3 linked regions of the Homo sapiens genome follow. The protein of the gene in region 1 interacts with the protein of each later gene in a pairwise test. Each region holds a gene or a part of one and is shown in the gene's direction. Other genes may lie near its edges.

Evidence for each region. The genes of interacting proteins can lie anywhere in the genome.
Region 2: the proteins of USO1 (region 1) and PHYKPL interact in binary tests that used the Homo sapiens proteins (3 or more experiments, as listed by UniProt).
Region 3: the proteins of USO1 (region 1) and DUSP12 interact in binary tests that used the Homo sapiens proteins (3 or more experiments, as listed by UniProt).

The regions. Positions count from the first base shown.
Region 1 is NC_000004.12:75,804,561-75,811,584, forward strand, and holds part of USO1 (general vesicular transport factor p115), read left to right. Parts: intron 1-579; coding exon 580-743; intron 744-1,925; coding exon 1,926-2,012; intron 2,013-4,392; coding exon 4,393-4,491; intron 4,492-5,871; coding exon 5,872-5,979; intron 5,980-7,024. UniProt on the Homo sapiens protein: General vesicular transport factor required for intercisternal transport in the Golgi stack; it is required for transcytotic fusion and/or subsequent binding of the vesicles to the target membrane.
Region 2 is NC_000005.10:178,229,802-178,236,636, reverse strand, and holds the start of PHYKPL (5-phosphohydroxy-L-lysine phospho-lyase), read left to right. Parts: upstream 1-3,834; 5' UTR 3,835-4,086; coding exon 4,087-4,145; exon of another isoform or gene 4,146-4,793; coding exon of another isoform or gene 4,794-4,968; intron 4,969-5,113; coding exon 5,114-5,232; intron 5,233-6,537; coding exon 6,538-6,697; intron 6,698-6,835.
Region 3 is NC_000001.11:161,745,368-161,752,786, forward strand, and holds the start of DUSP12 (dual specificity protein phosphatase 12), read left to right. Parts: upstream 1-4,418; 5' UTR 4,419-4,434; coding exon 4,435-4,778; intron 4,779-6,287; exon of another isoform or gene 6,288-6,300; coding exon 6,301-6,414; intron 6,415-6,498; coding exon 6,499-6,617; intron 6,618-7,000; coding exon 7,001-7,097; intron 7,098-7,419. UniProt on the Homo sapiens protein: Dual specificity phosphatase; can dephosphorylate both phosphotyrosine and phosphoserine or phosphothreonine residues. Can dephosphorylate glucokinase (in vitro).

The DNA.
Region 1 (7,024 bases):
CAATGCTGATACCACAATAGTGTTTCTGATTTAATAAATCTGGGATTAGGTCCAGGGATCAGTAACTAGTATAAGCCCACCAGGTGATTCTAATGTATAGCTGATTAAGAATGACCGCTGTAATCTTTCAGTTTCCTCTTCTGCAAAATGAAGATAGTAATAACATTTGAGAACTAAATGATATAATAAATGAAAAATTTAAGTTGTGCCTGGAAAATGGCAAGAGCTCCACTGCTTTTAAATAGTATTATCCTACGGTGCTTGTGAAGATTTTTTAAAAGGATTTTATTTTCTCATATTCAGTTGACAGAATTGGAATTAAAATTACTGTAATTCTTAATCATAGATCACCAGACCATGCAGTTTAGTCAAGGCTGTGCTGTTTTTTCTCCCAGAAATCTGGAAAATACTATCAGTTCACTATTTTTATCAGTATACCATTCTGCAAAGATGAAATGTGATTGCAAAAGTGCTGCCAAAGTAATTGAATGAAGAAAATTACATATTTGAATCTTCTACTTCAAAAATGAAAAACTGAAGTTTCCCGTTGGCTTTTAAAATGTTATGTCTGTCTAACAGGAAAAGACAATCAGCATCAAGGTTCTTACAGTGAGGGGGCTCAGATGAATGGCATTCAGCCAGAAGAAATTGGTAGATTGCGAGAAGAGATAGAAGAATTAAAACGTAATCAGGAACTTTTACAAAGCCAGCTGACTGAAAAGGACTCTATGATTGAAAATATGGTAAAGTAAATGTTTAAGAAGTTAAAATAAGAGTTCAAGAGTGGTTCTCATTATCCTGCCTTTTTTTTTTTTCCTTGGATCTCTTAAGCCAGAATATCATATGTTAAGATTTTACAGGATGGGCCAGGCACAGTGGCTTACGCCTGTAATCCTAGCACTTTGGGAGGCTGAGGTGGGCGGATCACCTGAGGTCAGGAGTTCAAGACTAGCCTGGCCAATATGGCGAAACCCTGTCTCTACTAAAAATACAAAAATTAGCCGGGCATGGTGGCAGGCACCTGTAGTCCCAGCTACGCAGGAGGCTGAGGCAGGAGAATCTCTTAAACCCAGGAGGTAGAGGTTGCAGTGAGCCGAGATCACCCCACTTCACCTCATTGCCTGTGCGACAGAGGGAGACTTTCCATCTAAAAAAAAAAAAAAAAAGATTTTACAGGATGAGCTTTAGAGTCAAACTGTTTAAACTTCAATGCTTCCTGGCTCATTGAATTTAAGCAATTTAGTTAACCTCTTTAAACTTGTTTCCTGATCTATAAAATGGTAGTGGTAATGTCTAGTTCATTGTTGTGAGATTTAATTTACTCTTCTAATAGATGGAAATTATTTAATAAATGTTTGCTTTTATGCTCTTTCTCCATATGAACGCAGGTAAATGCTTAGATTTAATAAATTGCTCGGTAAAATAAAAATTTTATTTTTTTTTCTTTAGAGACAGAGTCTCGCTCTGTTAGCCCAGTCTGGAGCGCAGTGGCACAATCTCGGCTCACTGCAACCTCCACCTCCCAGGTTCTAGCAGTTCTCCTGCCTCAGCCTCCCGAGTAGCTGGGATTATAGGTGCACGCTGCCACGTCCGGCTAATTTTTTGTATTTTAGTAGAGATAGGGTTTCACCGTGTTGCCCAAGCTGATCTTGCATTCCTGAGCTCAAGCAATCCACTGGCCTTGGCCTCCCAAGGATTACAGGCATGAGCCACCGCACCCAGCCTACAAATGGATTTTTAGCCATGAAAAAGTTGTAGACAATATGTGCTGTGTTGGAATTTTATCTTGGGCATAAAAATTAAAAGGTTGGTGTGAATTTTTTGGTAAGCACATATGATATAGTTTATATGTGTACAGTTCTGTTTTTTTTTCTCATCTCTTTAGACTGAATATATTTTATAGTTTATTTTTGTGCTATTTGCAGAAATCTTCCCAAACATCTGGCACAAATGAACAGTCTTCAGCAATAGTTTCAGCTAGAGATTCTGAACAAGTTGCAGAATTAAAACAGGTAATTTTCCACTTTGATCCAATTCTACTTTGTCATGTTTTAATTATAATAGAATAACAGCCCTATAGTTTCACAAATCTAGAACTATATTAGCAGATGTAAGTAAAATTTAAGTTAAGACAGCCATTTGAAAATCCAGAAGCTGTTTCTATTTATATGGTAATAGTACTTTGCTTTTTATTGTGTTTTTATTTTTCAGAGGTATTCCTTTTAAAAAATCTCAGCATCTCACCCATGTTATTTATAGATTATCAGTGAACTAACAAGGAAAAATTTAAATTTATAACTTGCAAATATGAAAATGTAAAATCTTATGCCTAATTTTAATATACTATGATAATTGCTTGACTAAATGTATGGGGTTTTTAAACTGTTTTGTCTAGAAAATATAGAATTTTAGAATTGGAAAAGAGAAGAAAGGTAAACTTACCTATATCTCAATTAAATGACTCCAGCTAAAAAGCAAAATAAACTTTTTCTGTGGTAATTTATAACATCTAGAAAAGCAAGTTAAACTTTTTTCTACTTGCTTATAGTATTTATAAATTCCTGTTAAACTAGATCATACAGATTTACCTTTATCCAATGAAAAAATTTAAATGTATTGTTCAAGAAAAGAATCAAAAGAGAGAAATGAACTCTGTATACTTACAATTAAATAATGTAGCAATTGGAAGAAAACTCTAGAGTATATTATCCCTAAACAGGTTCTGGGGTTGTTTTTCTTTCCTCCTCTCTTTTCTTCTCTCTCTTTTCTTCTTTCCCTCCTTTCTTTCTTATTATAAAAGAAATGCATACTTTTTTTTTTTTAATCCAAGCAATACTAAAAAATGACCATCCTCACTAACCTAGGACTAACTGTCTTCCTTCTCTCTCCACTAAGCAACTGGCCCTAGTCCACTGACATGGCTGCTTTGAAAGAGAAATGACTGAACATAGAGAAATTTTGTCTTATTTTGATAATGTCCATGTACCTCAGAGTAGATTCTAAATATCTGACCTCTTTTTAAAAAAAGAATCACTTATCATTTGAGGATTTTCAGGTCTCCAATATTTGTTCACAATGTTTTATTTGTGTGGGAAGATTAATATGCTCTTTTGGTTTTATTAAGTGTACCTATACTAGAACTGTATTAAAATTAAAGGGAATTAAGTTACTAATATATAGCCTTAGTTTGTAAATTCTAAGTAAAAATAAGCCATTTAATTATCTTTCCCAGTGAAACTTTAATTAGATATTTTTATAAAAAGAGAATTGCCTTTTAGTTTTTTTACTTTCTCCAGTTTATTTACTTTTATAAACTTTAGATTGTTAAAATATATGTATTTTTTAAGTGACAGTTTTGTTTTTTATAATATATAGTAAAGTACTATATATAGAAAACTGTAACTCATTTTAATAACTAAACAAAATAAATTAGAAAAGCCACAAATGTACATGATAGAAATTTTAAAGAGAACCAAAAGAAAAGAGCCTTTTACTTGCCATTGTCCCACCACTTACTCAGTGTCTCCAGACATTACCAAATGTCCTCGGGGATGGGGGGATATGGGGAGAAATCACTCCTGCTGAGAGCCATTGTTATAATTGCCTTTCTTTTCCTGTACTTTTTTTGGGGGAGGAGAAGGTGAGAAGTTTGGAAATTCAACATTAATAAAAACTTTCAATTAATACCCTGGTTTTCATTATAGTACTACTGCTTTCATCTGTGTTTGGTGGTCCCTAGTCTAAAGATGTCCTGTTTTGCCCAGCCACATAATAAACCTCAAGTCTTCATCCAGGAAAGGAGGAACGGTTGCCTGATGCCTAAGATTGAGACAGGGATCTGATGATCTATTTCTTAAATAGTCTTTTAACCAGGCCTGCAGTTTTTAACCTCATTTTTATCTGTACTTCCAGTGGTATCTAATGATACCAGTTCCTAACCTTTCTGGTAGTTAATGCATTCATTGTAAGTCAGGTACTATCTTAACTTTCTCAGTGGTCATCCTAGCTTTCAGCTTTCTCAGGTGTGCTGATTTAGTTATCACTGTTACTTGCTTTCTCAAAATTCCCCAATTATATTGCTCTCTTCTCTTACTGTTCTTGTTTTTGTAGGTTTCTTCCTCTCTCCCTCCCATCCTTCCTTTCTTTCTTCCTTCTCCCCTCCCTTCCTGTCTTTTATGATTTTTTTTTTTTGCATGGGATTTCAGGAGGGAGCAGAGGTAAATGAATGTGTTGAATTTTCCATCTTGAACCCAAAATTCAAGAATAGTTCTTTAGAGTTAGATTTTAAAAGTAGGAGGTTGTAAATCATTTTTTTAAATGTCTCCCTGTAAATATTTCCTTGATGAATTTAATACCATTTAATGTTATGACTCAACTATTTTTGTCTCTTAGGAACTGGCAACTTTAAAGTCTCAGTTAAACTCACAATCTGTGGAGATCACCAAACTACAGACAGAAAAGCAGGAACTGTTACAGAAAACAGAAGCGTTTGTAAGTATTTTCTCTTTTTTCTCTGGAAGGTAATAAAGACAAGGTTGATGTATTATTTCTTAGCCACAATTAAAAAGAAACAAATTCATCAGATAGCACCTTCTCTTTAGATTACTTACTAGCCGGTATTCTAGTAACATAGGCTTCATGTTCATGGTGACAGTCGTTTTATAGTCAGTCTCACCAGATTAGTTTATTCAGTTACTTAATAGTTTATTTTGCTGGTATTACATTCTATTTCTGTCCCTTCAGTCCAAGCTGGCAGTTTTTCTGCTGTCATAAAATATTCAGAAACCGTTGTTGTTTTCTCCAGAACATTCCTTCTCATACTTTTGCAATATAGGTAGACTGAGAATTTTCCAAATCTTCTAATTCTGATTCTTTTTTGCTTAGCAATTTCTTCTTCAATTTATCTCTCTTCTCTCACATTTAACTTTAAGCAACAAGGAGAAACCAGGCTGCACTCCAACACTTTGCTTAGAAACCTCAGTAAAATATCCAAATTCATTATTTACAAGTTCTGCTGTCCACAAAACACTGCAACACTATTTGGCCAAGTTATTTGCCACTTTATAACAAGGATTGCCTTTCCTCCGATTCCCAGTAACATGTTCCTAGTTTTCATCTGAGACCTCACCAAAAGCACCTTTAACATTCATATTTCTGCCAGCATTCTTCTTCTCACTATGACCATGAAGCTTCTTTCCAACTCCGCTCTTTTCTTTCTGAGCTCTCACCAGAATCACTTAATGTCCATATCTCTAGCAACAGTCTCATCAAGGTAATGCAGGCTTTGTCTACCATGCACCTCTCTTACAGCCTCTACTCATTACACAGTTCCAAAGCTACTTCCACATTTTTAGATATTTGTTGTGTCACTACCCGACTTCCTAGTATTTTAGAAAAAAGACAAGGAAAGACTGAAAAACTGTTATTCAGGAGTGTCTCCTCTAGCACTTGAGAAAAGATTTGCATTTCACTAATAATGATATTTGGCTCAATTTATCTACCTATCTAGGGTGGTAGTATGGACTTATAGGAAATTTATGAAGGAAAGGCTTTGAAAAATATTCTGTGTTTATTAAATGCTGGGTTACAGTTACATTAGAGCTGCCTTGCTGATTACTTTTCTGGGCTTACCTACCTTGAGGCACCTTAGCCCAGCCTTCCTCGTACTCTTATGAGATTTGATGCTCTTCCATGTGGGAACAGCTCATCTGACAGTGGAGAGCACTTTGTTGCACATAAATACATAAGGAATTATATTTTCTGTTAGTGAAAGTAAAATATCAAAATGGCAAAAAAATTAAATAACCCTTTGGGAGTTCATATTGATTGTAATGTTTAAGAGACATCTTTTTTTCCAATTTCTAATTTCAGGCAAAATCAGTTGAGGTACAAGGAGAGACCGAGACTATAATAGCCACCAAAACTACTGATGTAGAAGGAAGACTGTCAGCATTATTACAAGAGACCAAAGAGTTAAAGGTTTGTTTTTGGTGCAACTTTTATTTACTGCATATGATATGAAATGAACTCTAGGAAATTTTATATATCTTTCAAATTCTTAGATTTATGAAGAAAGCTAATGATGTGTAATTTTATCTCACAACATTTTCACTCCTATATTGATGATTTAAGATGGCACAAATGAAAATTTTTTTTGTTTTGGGTTTTTTTGTTTTGTTTTGTTTTTTTGAGATGGAGTTTCGCTCTGTCACCAGACTGGAGTACAGTGGCGCGATCTCGGCTCACCACAACCTCTGCCTCCCAGGTTCAAGCAATTCTCCCGCCTCAACCTACTGAGTAGCTGGGACTACAGGCGTGCACCACCACACCCAGCTAATTTTTGTATTTTTAGTACAGACAGGGTTTCACCACGTTGGCCAGGATGGTCTCCATCTCTTGACCTCGTGATCCACCTGCCTTGGCCTCCCAAAGTGCTGGAATGCTGGAATTACAGGTGTGAGCTGCCGCACCCAGCCACAAATGAAGCTTTTAAAATACTATTTCAAATAATGATAATATGTAAGATAAGCATACATATGCATGTACTATAAAAGTAAAATTTATTGAAAATATTTTTGTTTTCTTTCTTTCTTTTTCTTTTTTTTTTTGAGAGAGAGTCTCAATTTTGTGTTCCAGGCTGGATGGAGTGCAGTGGCATGATCTCAGCTCACTGCAGCCTCCACCTCCCAGATTCAAGCGATTCTCCTGCCTCAGCCTCCTGAGTAGCTGGGATTTCAGGCACCTGCCAACATGCTCAGCTAATTTTTGTACTTTTAGTAGAGACGAGGATTCGCCATGTTGGCCAGGCTGGTCTCAAACTCCTGACCTCAGGTGATCTGCCCGCATTGGCCCCCCCCAAAGTGCTGGGATTACAGGCGTGAGCCACCACACCCGGCCTGTGTTTTCTTTTTAAGATCAACATCTAATCACAATAACAAAACAAGGAGTACAAATTTAGCTAATACACAAGCCACATGTAGGCTTTCCATAAGCCGTGGAACATAGGCACATTAAATCCTGTCAG
Region 2 (6,835 bases), on another chromosome or scaffold:
GCCACCTCAGCTGTGAAACGAGAGGGCACTACTTACCACTCAGATTGTGGTTCCGTGAGGATCCAGTGCAGAGTATGCGAAGAGTATAGGGTGTGTCCCTCACCCAGAAGCACCCTCAATTCTGATTTTCATCTCTCCTCCTGACTCCAAGGCTGCTGAGCAACAGCCACAGTCCTGCAAAGTGTTCCCACTTCTGTCATCACAGCTGGTCCCTATAACAACTAAGAGAGGGACCGTCTTACAGATGACAAAACCAAGCACATCCAGGGTGGTCTAGGCAAGAAGGGCCATGGGCCGGGCGCGGTGGCTCACGCCTATAATCCCAGCACTTGGGGTGGCTGAGGCGGGCAGATTACCTGAGGTTGAGAGTTCGAGACTAGCCTGACCAACACGGAGAAACCCCGTCTCTACTAAAAATACAAAATTAGCTGGGTGGTGCATGCCTGTAATCCTGTAATCCTGTAATGCCTGTAAATTAGGTGGGTGGTGGTGCATGCCTGTAATCCCAGCTACTCGGGAGGCTGAGGCAGAAGAATCGCTTGAAACCAGGAGGTAGAGGTTGTGGTGAGCTGATGTCGCACCATTGCCCTCCAGCCTGGGCAACAAGAGCGAAACTCCGTCTCAAAAAAAAAAAAAAAAAAAAAAAGGGCCTGCAGTGATGGTGTCTCTGATGGTGGTGGTGCATTGCACTGATGGTGTCTGAGTCTCCAAGGACTGAAGCCTAGGGCAGGCCACAGTATGGGTGGTCACCCTCAGACTTCTGTGACATGGCCTTGCTAAGCAGAAGAGGCTCGGCCACACACTGGCTAAGGAGGGAGAGATATATCCAGTCCCCTCCTCTGTCTCCCTAAGGAACTGGCAATAAGTGGAAGGTCACATCGCTCAGCCAGTTGTCTGGGTCAACAGGGAAGCCAGTAGTGGGAAAAGGAAGAGAAACACAGTGGGGCTGTGATGACTGATGGAGGTCACTGGGTGTCCATGCCGCCTCTGGAGTTCCAGCATAACCTCACCATCTGCATGCTACACTTCACAGTTCCCTCCTTCCTCCATCCAGGAACCTCACTTGATCCCCTCACCAGCCCTGCGAAGCCCAGGGCTTGTGTGATAGGTGTCGATATGCCCATTTTACATAGGGGAACACTGAGGCTCAGAGAGGGTAGTCACCTGGCCAGGGATGCACAGCCAGGACATAGTGGCAGGCTTGGGACTGCACCTAGGCTCTTGGGTTTGTCCTCTAATACGTCCTTCTGAAACTTGTCTGGCAGAGCATGGAATCTGATAGGCAGCTCCATGATGCTGTGTGATTGGCAGGTAGATCCTCGTGGGGTAGAAGCCATGTGTTCCCCCCACTTCCCCAGTCTTCTGAGGGGGTCTCTCCTGCTCCTTTAGGCAGGATGGGGCATTCTTGGCCCACTGCTGCCCCCTTGCGGTCTCATACCTTGTATCCCGATGGCTGCAAACGTTTCAACTGCAAGCTTAAAAATGTAGAGTCGGCTGAGTCCTCAAAGTGCCCGGGGAGAGCACAGAGGCGGTAGAGGGTTCAATGATTTGTTCAAGGTCCCAGCCGAGACACTGGGGAGCACCCTGCTTCACAGCTGAGACTCAAGGACTGGGGGGCCTCAGGCCTCCTGCCAAGAAAGGCAGTACAGCCTCAAAGTACCCCTTTCTGGAAGAGAGAGAAGTACATTTACTGAGTCCTGCTGTGTCCCATGACAGCTAAACTAACCACAAGGATGACGATCCCTTTTTATAGATGAATGTGAAGGGGACTTACCAGGTCTCTTTCCTCCTGGTCCCTAGGAGACCACTAGGAATACATGGGATGCTTCTGGTTAGCACAATGATTGCAGGACACCTGGGCATTCAGGGGACAGGGCCAGGGATAGCAAACACCTAAAATGCATAGGACAGTCCTACCCAGTGACAAATCATCTCAACAAGAATCCCGGTGCCAACCCTGTTGAGAAACACCATGCCCTGGGTTCAAATCCTGACTCAGCCACTTCCATCCCCTACCCTCTTGGACTCCAACATTGCCTAGAGGGCCAGGCATGAAATAAAGGACAGATGAGTGCCTGGCACAGGGCCAGAGACAAGGAGTGGGCTTTTCTGAGCAGGAAGAAGGTGAGGCCTCCTGGTGTTCTGTGCCATGCTATAAGATACTCCTGGCCCAGGAAATGGCTCAACCTGGTCTGACCTCCAACTATATCACCTCTTGACCCAGGAGCAGGTGAGATGTTAGCCGGGCCCAGCTACAGCCTTCTCACCCTCTGCCTTAAAGCAGGAAAAGCCCCTGAGCCAACCTGATTCCTCTGAGCTGCACGGGGCCACAGCTGTGGCTGGAGTTTGGGCTGCAAGACAGGGCTGAAAGGCGGGGCCCAAATAGGACTCACACACACACAAATACACACACACACACACGGTCTGTGAGGTCTTGATCCTCAGAAACGAAGTACAGGCTGGGTATGGTGGCGTGCACCTGTAGTAGCAGGTACTTGAGAGGCTGAGATGGGAGGATCACATGATCCCAGGGAGGTAGAGACTGCAATGCTGCACTCCAGCCTGAACAACAGAATAAGACCCTTTCTTTAAAAAAAAAAAAAAATACAGGCCACAAGCAGTTAACCTCGCAGTTAATTTGGGAAGAATTTTTTCCAAAAATCATGTAAAATATTCAATTCAGCTTTACAGTTAAAAATAAGAAATTCCATTCTTTTAGGGAAGATGAAAAAGTCCTGTTGCATGGATGGTGGTGATGGCTGCACGACGATGTGAATGTACTTTTGCCACTGAATTGTATCCTTAAAAATGGTTAAAATGGTAAAATTTTGTTATGTATATTTTACACAATAAAGAAAAAAGAAACTCCAAATGTTCTTTAATAAATGCCTTAAGCGGCCGGGTGCGGTGGCTCACCCGGCCTGTAATCCCAGCACTCTGGGAGGCCGAGGCAGGCAGATCATCTGAGGTCAAGAGTTCAATAAATGCCTTATGCATCTTACAACTGTATTGGGAAGAGAAGAAGAAATCAGCAATGAGGGAGTGAAGCAGAGGCCTGGGAATCATGATGTGGACAGAAAGAAGGGACAATCAGGAGCCTCCCCTGCACCTGCTGCAGTCCCAGGCCCGTGTTCCAGGGTTCTTCAAGGCAGAAAGCCCCAGTGCCTCACCCCAGGAGGGGGCTTTTCTCTCATATCCCAGCCCCTTGGGAGGCTTTTTCTTCTCACTCCCTGGGCTGGGAGTCAAGAAGACCTCAGTAGGAGTCCAGCCTCTGCAGCCTTGCTGCGTGTCTGACAACAAAACCCTTTCCCTTTCTGGGCTTCAGGGTCACCGACATGTACCACAAGGAGGATTCCCAACCTCTCTTCTTGCCCAAACGCTGCATGATTCTCTCAGCGACGATACAGCTCGTCCGGTTCACCCTGCCTAGATTCTAGCAGGAACTATGGTGCCCTGAAGGTCAAGCCCATGGTGATCTCCTTGGTCAGCCCCAGAAGGGACCCTGGGCTCTCCTTCTGCTCTTCCTGCTGCCCCTTCATGGGGCTGGGAAAACCTAGGACCTGCTTCTCCCACCCTGAGGCCCCTACTGTGTACCAGGCCCGGGTAAGGTACCAGTCACATACTCGCACTTAGGCCTCACAGTTCATCCCATTTTATGCACAAGGCGACTCAAAGACTGAGTCTGGCCCAGAGAAGGCCTGCAGGAGCTCCGAGCCCCGCCTGGGCGCCGGGAGCAGGGGCGGGGTCGTCCGGGACCCTTTCCCGGAAGGGAGGCCGCAGGGGCCTGCGGGGCGGGGCCTGCGGGGCGAGGCCCGGGGCGCGTCCCGGAACCAGAGACGGGGCAGCGCTCGAGTTCCTGCGCGGGACTGCCAAGGCACGACCACGGGCCGGAAGGCTGCCAGGCCCAGTGGGCAAGCGAAGAAATGAACCACCGCAACGCGGGCGCTTCGGGGCGGGGCCGAGTGCGAACCTGAGCCCCAAATCCCGACCCAGGCAGGGGCGGGGCCCGGAGCGGGGCCTTGGAGGCCCAGCCCGCGCGGCGACGTCTCCGCGTGGCGTCACGGCACCGACTGACGGCCACCCACCATGGCCGCAGACCAGCGCCCGAAGGCCGACACGCTGGCCCTGAGGCAACGGCTCATCAGGTACCCGGGCGGGGGGCGGGCGGCGGGGGGCGCGGGGCTGCGCGGAGAGGCACGCGCACGCACGACGCACGCACGCACGCACTACGCACGCGCCTCCGGCTAGGAAGCCGCTGCTACCCATCCCGTCCGGCCGCTGCCCCGGCCCCGCTGGAGCTTCTAGGGCCCGAGGCGGGCGGCGCCGTTGGGCAGTCCCGGCGGGTGGTCTCCGGGGCCGCCTCCCCGACAGCGCCGTCTCCAGGCCGCCCAGTTCAGGAGACGGCCCCGCCCTCACCGCTGTTCGGCTGTGTCAGCCTCGCTTGGCAGCCTTTACTCCGGAGAAGACCTTCACCCTGGCGCCTGAGAGGACCTCACCCAGGGTGGCCCGTCAGCAGCACCTGGGCCTGGCTCGAGAGTGACCTGGGAGGGGGCTGAAAGGGCAGACAAGGGAGAGTCGGGGGAGTCGGTTCACAGGCAGCACACTTGACCTGTGAGGGGGCCCTCGGTGGGACGGTGGGTGAGGTCGCCTCCCACTGGAGCTTAGGGCTGGCACCCAGCGAGGGGCAGCAGGGCCACGTGGCTGGCAAGGAGCTGTTTAGGGCTGAGAGCCAGGCACCTAATGTTGGTGCCCTGGCCCATCCCATCGAAGACACGCGGCCTTATGGAGTCCCCATGGGACGGGGCAGCCACCTTTTCTCAGGATCCGGGAGACTGACGCGGACACATGCAGAAATGAGCAAGGAGGCCACAGAGGCTGAAAATGCTTTCAGAAACAATCCGAAGTTTCAGCGACTTGTTACCCCATCTGCTTCCTGCTTTGCAACCACCTGTGGAGTGGAGAGACAAGGCAGGGAAGCAGCACCTTGCCCTTCCAGCTCTCATTTCCCCCCCGCCACCAGAAACTGGGAAGGGGTGGGCGGGGGTCTGCGATGAGTAGACTTCACCCTTTCGGTCTTCAGACATGGCTGTCCACTCCTTGCCTGTCCCCACAGCTCTTCCTGCAGACTCTTTTTTCCCGAGGATCCTGTTAAGATTGTCCGGGCCCAAGGGCAGTACATGTACGATGAACAGGGGGCAGAATACATCGATTGCATCAGCAATGTGGCGCACGGTCAGTATCACACCTCAGGCTGGCAGGGCAGGAGAGGAAGGCAGTGCTGTGAACCTGGTCCCAAGGTGACCTGAGATTGCCGAGAGGTGTGGAGAACCTGGGTGGAGTTGAGGCACTGTCAGTATGCAGAGGAGGCTCAGCCTTCGCAATATAGCTGTGGAATTCTGCAATCTGGAGCTGTGCTAAACCAGGCAGGGGTCAGCAATCTAGGTCTGTGAGTCTAGTTCCACTTGGGACTGATGATGAGCTCACAAAGTGGCAGATGGCCCAGCTGTGACCAGCAACGTAGCACAGTGCTGGCCAAGTGCTGGGGTCATGGCAGTGCTTCAGCCCCATTGGCCATCTCAGGTGCTAGGCAAGGGAGCTGAAGTAGGAATTCAGTCATCTTGATGAGGCTGCCAGAGCTGATGGAAAGAAAGGGAGTCTGAGACTCAGCAGGCACATGGAAGATGAATAAAGTTGAGGTTAAAAAAAAAAAAAAAGCAGAGACTCTAGTCTTAGACTGCTTGGGCTCAAATCCCTGTCCCCTACTTACTAACTTGTGATCTCGGGCAAGTTACTTAATTCTCAGTGCCTCAGTTTGCTTATCTGTGAAAGACATAATGATACTAGGTACCCACTTTAAGGTGTTTGGAGAATTAAGTGTGTTAATTTATGTAGCTTGCTCTGAATGTGCCTGGCACATGGTGAGCTCTCAGTACATATTCACTGTTATTATCCTTGGCCTTTGACAATCAAGATTACCACCAGCCCCCTTGGCTGGTGAAGTGAAACCAGTTGACAGTCACCCCCCACCCCACCTTTGTCATACAAGCCTCAAAAGGCCTTCCAGCCTGGGCAACATAATGAGACCTTGTCTCTACCAAAAAAAAACTTAAAAATTAGCCAGGCATGGTGACTGGTGTCTATAGCCCCACCTGCTCAGGAGGCTGAGGTGGGAGGACCACTTGAGCCCAGGAGTGTGAGGATGCAGTGAATGCCATGATCACACCATACACTCCAGCCTGGGTGACAGAGTAAGGCCCTGTTAAAAAAAAAAAAAAAAGTCCTCCTTAAAGACATGGGCTTTCTAGACAGGGTTCTTCTGCTGAAGCGGCTTTCCTTCTGCCAGAATCTCAGGAACTCCTGGATCTGCCTTTCCAGAACCAGCTTCTCTCTCCCTGCTCTGCCTTCAGACTGCCCTCTTTCTACCTCTCCCTCTAGAACTACATCTCTTCTGGCTGGGTTTATAGCTTGGGGCTGGGGGAGGCCCAGTGGGACTGGCTGAGTGGAGCCAGCCGTGTGACGGAGGCGGCCCTCTTCCAGTTGGGCACTGCCACCCTCTCGTGGTCCAAGCAGCACATGAGCAGAACCAGGTGCTCAACACCAACAGCCGGTACCTGCATGACAACATCGTGGACTATGCGCAGAGGCTGTCAGAGACCCTGCCGGAGCAGCTCTGTGTGTTCTATTTCCTGAATTCTGGGTAAGTGGACTGTGGCCAGCCCCCGGGAAGAGGGTGAGACGGTAACAAAGACAGTCACTCACATGGGCCCAGTGTAGTGTAGCTGACCGAGTGTGGACTCGGAGAGGCAGCCCCCACTGCACCAGGCTCCTGAGATTC
Region 3 (7,419 bases), on another chromosome or scaffold:
AACTGTGAACACCATCTGCATCATCCTTCTTTCTCCCTTTTCCAACAACACATTTACACTTCGATGGGGCTTTCTGGCCTTTGTGCCTTTGAAGATGTTGGTCCTTCCGGTTAGAACTTCTTTCCTCATCTCCCTCCTTTTTCCCTGACAAATTCCCACTCATCCTTCAAGATGCAGATCAAGCATCACCTCCTCTGGGAGGCCATCCCTAATTACCCTCCTTCCATTAGGATTGGATGCCTCCATGTGCTCCCTTAGTACACGGCCCTTGCCTCTACTATAACACTAATTAGCTATTTACTTACTTTCACTCCAGCATTTCACCAAGTTCCTTGAGGGCAAAGACTGTCATACATCTTTATATCCTCAGCATCTACAGTCGTGCCTTATTTTACTTAGCATAATGTCCTCAAAGTTTTTATTGTTGTTGAGATGGAGTCTTGCTCTGTCACCCAGGCTGGAGTGCAGTGATGCGATCTCGGCACGCTGCAACCTCCACCTCCGGGGTTCAAGGGATTCTCCTACCTCAGCCTCCTGAGTAGCTGGATTACAGGCATGCACCACCATGCCCAGCTAAGGTTTTGTTTTCATTTTTGTTTTTTAGGATGGAGTCTCGCTCTGTTGCCCACGCTGGAGTGCAGTGGCATGAGTTCAAGGGGGTTCAAGTGATTCTCCCGCCTCACCCTCCCAAGTAGCTGGGATTACAGGCGCCTGCCACCATGCCTGGCTAATTTTTGTATTTTTAGTAGAGATGGGGTTTCACCATGTTGGCCAGGCTGGTCTTGAACTCCGGACCTCAGGTAATCTGCCTGCCTTGGCCTCCCAAAGTGCTGGGATTACAGGTGTGAGCCACTGGGCCCCGCCTTTTTTTTTTTTTTTTTTTGTATTTTTAGTAGAGACAGGTTTTCGCCATGTTGGCACGGCTGGTCTCAAACTCCTGACCTCAGGTCATCTGCCAGCCTCAGCCCCACAAAGTGCTGGGATTACAGGCATGAGCCACCGTGCCCGACCTCAAAGATAATCTATGTTGTAGCATGTGACAGAATTTCCCTCTTTTTATATGGCTGAATAATAGTTCATCATATGCATATACCATCTTTCTTTCTTTCTTTCTCTTTTTCTTTCTTTCTTTCTTTTCTTTTTCTCTTTCTTTCTCTCTCTCTTTCCTTCCTTCCTTCCTTCCGTCTTCCTTCCATCCTTCCTTCCTTCCTTCCTTCCTTCTCTCTCTCTCTCTCTTTCTTTCTTTCTTTCCTTTTTGGAGACAGAGTCTCGCTCCATCCCTTAGGCTGGAGTGCAGTGGCATGATCTTGGCTCACTGCAACCTCCGTCTCCTGGGTTCAAGCGAGTCTCCTGCCTCAGCCTCCCGAGTACCTAGGATTACAGGCACCCACCACCATGCCCAGCTGATTTTTGTATTTTTAGTAGAGATAGGGTTTTGCCATGTTGGCCAAGCTGGTCTTGAATTCCTGGCCTCAGGTGATCCACCTGCCTCGGCCTCCCAAAGTGCTAGGATTACAGACGTGAGCCACCGCGCCCGGCCCATACCACATTTTCTTTATCCATTAATCCATGATGGACATTTGGGTTACTTCTACCTTTTTGCTATTGTGAATAATGTTGCCATAAATATGGGTGTGCAAATATCTTTGAGATCCCACTTTCAATTCTTTTGGCTATATAACCTAGAAGTGAGATTGCTGGATCATGTGGTAATTCTATTTTTAATCGTTTGAGGAAACTCCGTACTGTTTTCCCTGGTGGGTGCACCATTTTACATTCCCTTCAGCAATGCATAAGCGTTCCAATTTTTCCACATCCTTGCTAACACTTATTTTCTGTGCTTGAAAAAAATACTAGCCATCCTAATGGGTGTAAGATGATATTATTATTGTAGTTTTGATTTGCATTTCTCTAATGATTAGCAATTTGAGCATCTTTTCCTATGCTTTTTGGCCTCTTGTATATCTTCTTTGGAGGAATGTCTATTCAGGTCGTTTGCCCAGTTTTTTGAAAATTGGGTTACTTGTTTTTCTGTTGTCGAGTTGTAGGAGTTTTTTATATGTTCTGCATATTAACGTATCAGATATATGCTTTGCAATTATTTTTTCCCATTCCATACAAATTCCTTTTCTCTCTATTGACTGTTTTGCTTGATATGCAGACACTTTAAAATTTGATATAGTCCCATTTGTCTATTTTCGCTTTTGTTGCCTGTGCTTTTGGTATTTTATCCAAAAAATTGAGGGAGAAGAAAAGGAAAAATCAGTTAGGTAGACAGCTAAGGCTAGCCCTTGGAGAAGCAGTCTGCCTGAAAAATCACAGCTACAAACAAAATAGAGCAGCTTAGGCAAAACTCAGGCTGCACCTGCACAGATAAGCAGGTAGGGTCCAGCACAGACGCTTTTCATTCTTCGTGTAATTGGCGAGCTCCCAGGAAAAACTTTCCTCCCCTTTTCAGGTATATACACAGTGGACTCCGTGGGAACTTGCACAGGAAGGAGGGGGGCTTACCTAAAACAAACCTACAGTGATACAAACAAGAGAACCCACGCTTTGTGCTTGCCTAGAGACATACCCACATCGGCAGAAGATAAGGGAAGTTGCACAGACAGATTTATTCATAAGAGAAGTTACTCAAACAACTATAGAGATGAGAGGAGTTTCTTATAATAGGTTTTGAATTCAGCTGTAAAAATGGCACCCCACTTGGGCTCCCCTCTCTGCTGTGGAGAGCTTTCTTCTTTTGCTTATTAAACTTTTGCTTCAACCTCACTCTTTGTGCCCATGCTCCTTAGTTTTCTCGGTCGTTAGACAAGTTCGGATAACACCTTAGACAATGAGACCATTAACCCTTACCTGTTTCAACATTTTTATCAAATCCAAGGCCATGAAGCTTTCCCCCTATGTTTTCTACTAAGAATGTTATATTTTTAGGTCTTTAATCTATTTGGAGTTATTTTTTGTGTATGGTCCAAGGTAAAGGTCCATCTTCATTCTTTTGCATGTGGATATCTAGTTTTTCCCAACACTGTTGAGGAGATTGTCCTTTTTCCATTGTGTGGTCTTGGCACTCTTTTTGAAGATTATTCTAACATATATGCAGTGTTGCAGGTGATTAGCAGCTTTCTGGGCTGGTGACATGGGTGGTAGGAAGAATTTACCAACACAGTTGTAGGTAAAGAAAGGCAGGTTTATTAGATAAAGTATGAAAATACATTGCAAGGGTGCAACAGGCAGGTCAGCAAGAGAGAAGCTGACTGCTAGGAAACAAAGGCTTGCTGGGGATTTTGTAGAATGGTGCTTATGTTGTGGGTGGAAGAGGGCTTTGTGCAGTACTAATAATGCCAGGGTTGCAGTGAACTAACTTCCATTTTTCTATCAGCTGAGGGTCTGGTGATGGCTGGGCACAGGCAGATTGTGAGTTATTTGCACAGCAGGGCTATGTGTCCTGGACCACGAAGAAAGGCAGACTTATGGCTTGTCTGCTTTCTCCTTTTGCTTCCCTTCGTCCAGCCAGCCTGACTCCTTTTCCCTAATTAGGACTCCACACGCAAGGGTTTGTTCTGTTCCAGAATAGAGACACGTCGATGTATCTATCTTTATACCAGTACTATAGCTGCTACTTCTTGACCAATTACAGCTTTAGTATCTCTCTCACCTGTCCTCCCTATACAAAAGATATATAAAATATACTCACTGTACTGAGTATCTTCCTGCAGCATTCAGTCTGGAGCAAAGCCTGCTTCCTTCAACCCTTTCCAAAATCCCCAAATAAAAGCCCAAAATCTGTAGAGGATCTTCCTAACATCCTCGTGCTGAGATGCCCTGAAATTCTCCATAACTCATGACTGAGTAATAAAACCAACTTGCTTAATTAAAGTTGGTTTCTTGTAGTCCTGGCCGGAGGACATTGACTTACAAAAATATAGGATTAGTATCTTCAAAATAAATAGACAGTAAACATCAACAAGGATTCACACCCCAATAATGAAATTGGGCAGAAAAAGGAAAAATAATCATGAAATGCACAGTAAAGATGGCTCCATAATATTGAAAAAAATTTTACTTCAAATGCATAAAATGATGCTTCTGATTCAGCTGGTGCGACATTTATTTCACATTTGAGTTCAGCTGCTCCTGATGTCTCTTTCCTGAAAATTTCAATACTAAGAGCTCGAGAAACCCTGTATTTGGGGAAGCTTATCCTTCACCATCAACTTTGGGGGTAGGGGTCAGAGGGAACAAGGGTGGAAAGGCCGCGCTGAATGGGGCCGAAGCTCCGCCCCTCAGCGATAAGTCCAGATTCCTGCGGCCGACGTGGTCCTCCGAGGGAGCAGCAGAGCCGCCGAGGCTGGCGAGTCCCAGGGGAAGGATGTTCTAGCCGGAGTCTACTCGATGGTAGGGCAGGAAGCCGCCTTGTCTCTGGGCGCGGCCATGTTGGAGGCTCCGGGCCCGAGTGATGGCTGCGAGCTCAGCAACCCCAGCGCCAGCAGAGTCAGCTGTGCCGGGCAGATGCTGGAAGTGCAGCCAGGATTGTATTTCGGTGGGGCCGCGGCCGTCGCGGAGCCAGATCACCTGAGGGAAGCGGGCATCACGGCCGTGCTAACAGTGGACTCGGAGGAGCCCAGCTTCAAGGCGGGGCCTGGGGTCGAGGATCTATGGCGCCTCTTCGTGCCAGCGCTGGACAAACCCGAGACGGACCTACTCAGCCATCTGGACCGGTGCGTGGCCTTCATCGGTCAGGCCCGCGCTGAGGGCCGTGCGGTGTTGGTGCACTGGTGAGTGGCCGGGTCAGTGGGTGACGTGCCCCGCCAAGCTTCCAGCCGGCCCCCGTCGCCCCTTACCTTCCGAGGCCGTCGGGAGGACAAGAGCGCGGTCATGCCGCGTGAACCTCCTCCCGCTGCCTCCCGCAGGAGGCGTGTTTCCAAGAGAGGAGGAGGGTTGAGGCGGGCCCCTGGTGTGTGCAGGCTTTCATTCATTCATGCTTTAGTTGGTTCTTCCTGCAGCAGCAGAGGGCGGGGGAGGTGTCATCTGATAAATGACAAATTACCTACACCCTAAGGAGTTTACAGCTCTGTTGGAGAAGCTAGACACCCACCCCGATTATTGTAATGCAGATTAGGTTGCTTGGTGTCTTGTAAACGGGATTTACAAAGATTTAGGGTTAAATGTTTTTGTTTGGGATGGGTGGCGGGTGGTTGATGAAGAGATGAATTGGTTTGGATCTAAAGGATCCCTGGGCTTTGCCTAGGGAGGAGATGGTTGCAGCAAAGACAAAAAGAAAATGGGAATCCCGCAGGGCGCGGTGGCTCACGCCTGTAATCCCAGCACTTTGGGAGGCAGGAGGATCACAAGGTGAGGAGTTCGAGATCAGGCTGGCTAATATGGTGAAACCAAAAATACAAAAATTAGCCGGGCGTGGTGGCTCTCGCCTGTAGTCCCAGCTACTCGGGAGGCTGAGGCAGGAGAATCACTTGAACCTGGGAGGCGGAGGTTGCAGTGAGCCGAGGTCATGCCACAGCACTCCAGCCTGGGCAACAGAGCGAGACTCCATCCCTCCCCCCAAAAAAAGAAAATGGGAATCCCTAAGCAGTTCTTGGTTGGATTGGAGTATAATAATCGTTTAAATTTATTGAGCACATAAAAGAAGATAGTGATGAAATCAAAAGAAGTCTGGGACCAGATTTTGAGGTCCCTGAATGCTAAGATGAAAGGAGATTGGATTTGTTTTTGTTTTGTTTTATTTATTTTTATTTTGATATAGGGTCTTGCTCTGTCACCCAGGCTACAGTGTAGTAGCGTAATTACGGCTCACTGCAGTCTCAACCTCCCAGGCTCAAGTGAACCTCCTGCCTCGGCCTCCAGAGTAGCTGGGACTACAGACCCCACCACATCCGGCTAATTTTTTGTAGAGGTGGGGTCTCACTTTGTTGCCCAGGCTGGTCTCCAACTCTTGGACTCAACCAATCCTCTCACCTCGCCTCCCAAAGTGCTGGGATTTCAGGCGTAGGTAAGCCACTGTGTCTAGCCAGGAGTTTGGATTTGTTCTGAGCCATTATAAAAATTTTAAAAATTACTGTTATTATTTTTGAATAGGTAATAGATTCACGTGGTTCAGAATTCAAAAGGAAAAAGGAATAATTATTTTGTACCTTGATAATATTTCAGAGGCAATGGGCTTATTTGAGAAGCAAAAATGAAGTGGGCCTAAACTTTACTATTAATAGGGGGCTGGGCTTTGTGTGTTTTTTTTTTTAATTGTTGCTATTTGCTGTTTTATTTTAAAGGTCTCTTTTTCAGTCATGCAGGAGTCAGTCGAAGTGTGGCCATAATAACTGCTTTTCTCATGAAGACTGACCAACTTCCCTTTGAAAAAGCCTATGAAAAGCTCCAGATTCTCAAACCAGAGGCTAAGTGGGTTCTTTTTTTATAGTAATAATTATGCTTTTGTGATATAATTTTAAGAAAATGAAACTTTATATTTCTTTATCATTACAGGATGAATGAGGGGTTTGAGTGGCAACTGAAATTATACCAGGCAATGGGATACGAAGTGGATACCTCTAGTGCAATTTATAAGCAATATCGTTTACAAAAGGTTACAGAGAAGTATCCAGGTAAGTAATAATTGCTAGTGTGTAATGGGCTTTCTAGATGACATTTACTTTAGCATTGTATGCTTTACCTTACTTCCAGCAATCCCTGAGAAACTATTGTTTCTTTTTGAAACTGATTTAGCCAGAAATAACCTATTCAAAATCACATGGTTTATAAATGGCAGGGTCAGGATTTGAATTCAGGCAGCCCGTGCCCAGAACCTAAGCACTTAAATCACTGTCCTCTCCTACCTTAGCCTGATTTCTCAACACTGGAATTTGATTTTTTTTTTTTTTTAATTTTTGAGGTTAGCACTTGTTGCCTCAATTTGACATTAACTGAATTTATCTGAAAATGCAGAGTTGATTTTGACAAATAAATACATTTTAATTATGTCATATAGAATTGCAGAATTTACCTCAAGAACTCTTTGCTGTTGACCCAACTACCGTTTCACAAGGATTGAAAGATGAGGTTCTCTACAAGTGTAGAAAGTGCAGGTAAACTATTTTATATCCTTTGGATATTTTATCTTGTCTCAGTAGCTGAAAAGTACTTAATGTTTTATTTTCTTAAATTTCTGTAGGAAGATTTTGTTTAATTGAAATTTTTAGTTCAGATCTGTTTTCAGAAAGAATATAAATTCTTAAAAAGAGAAATAATCAGATTGTAAGGGTTATTGAAAATTTAAGTAGTGTAATCAATGTTACATTATTTTGTTCTCTAAGCAATATTGCACATTTTGCTGGGCGCAGTGGCTCACGCCTGTAACCCCAGCACTTTGGGAGGCCGAGGCAGGCAGATCACCTGAGATTGGGAATT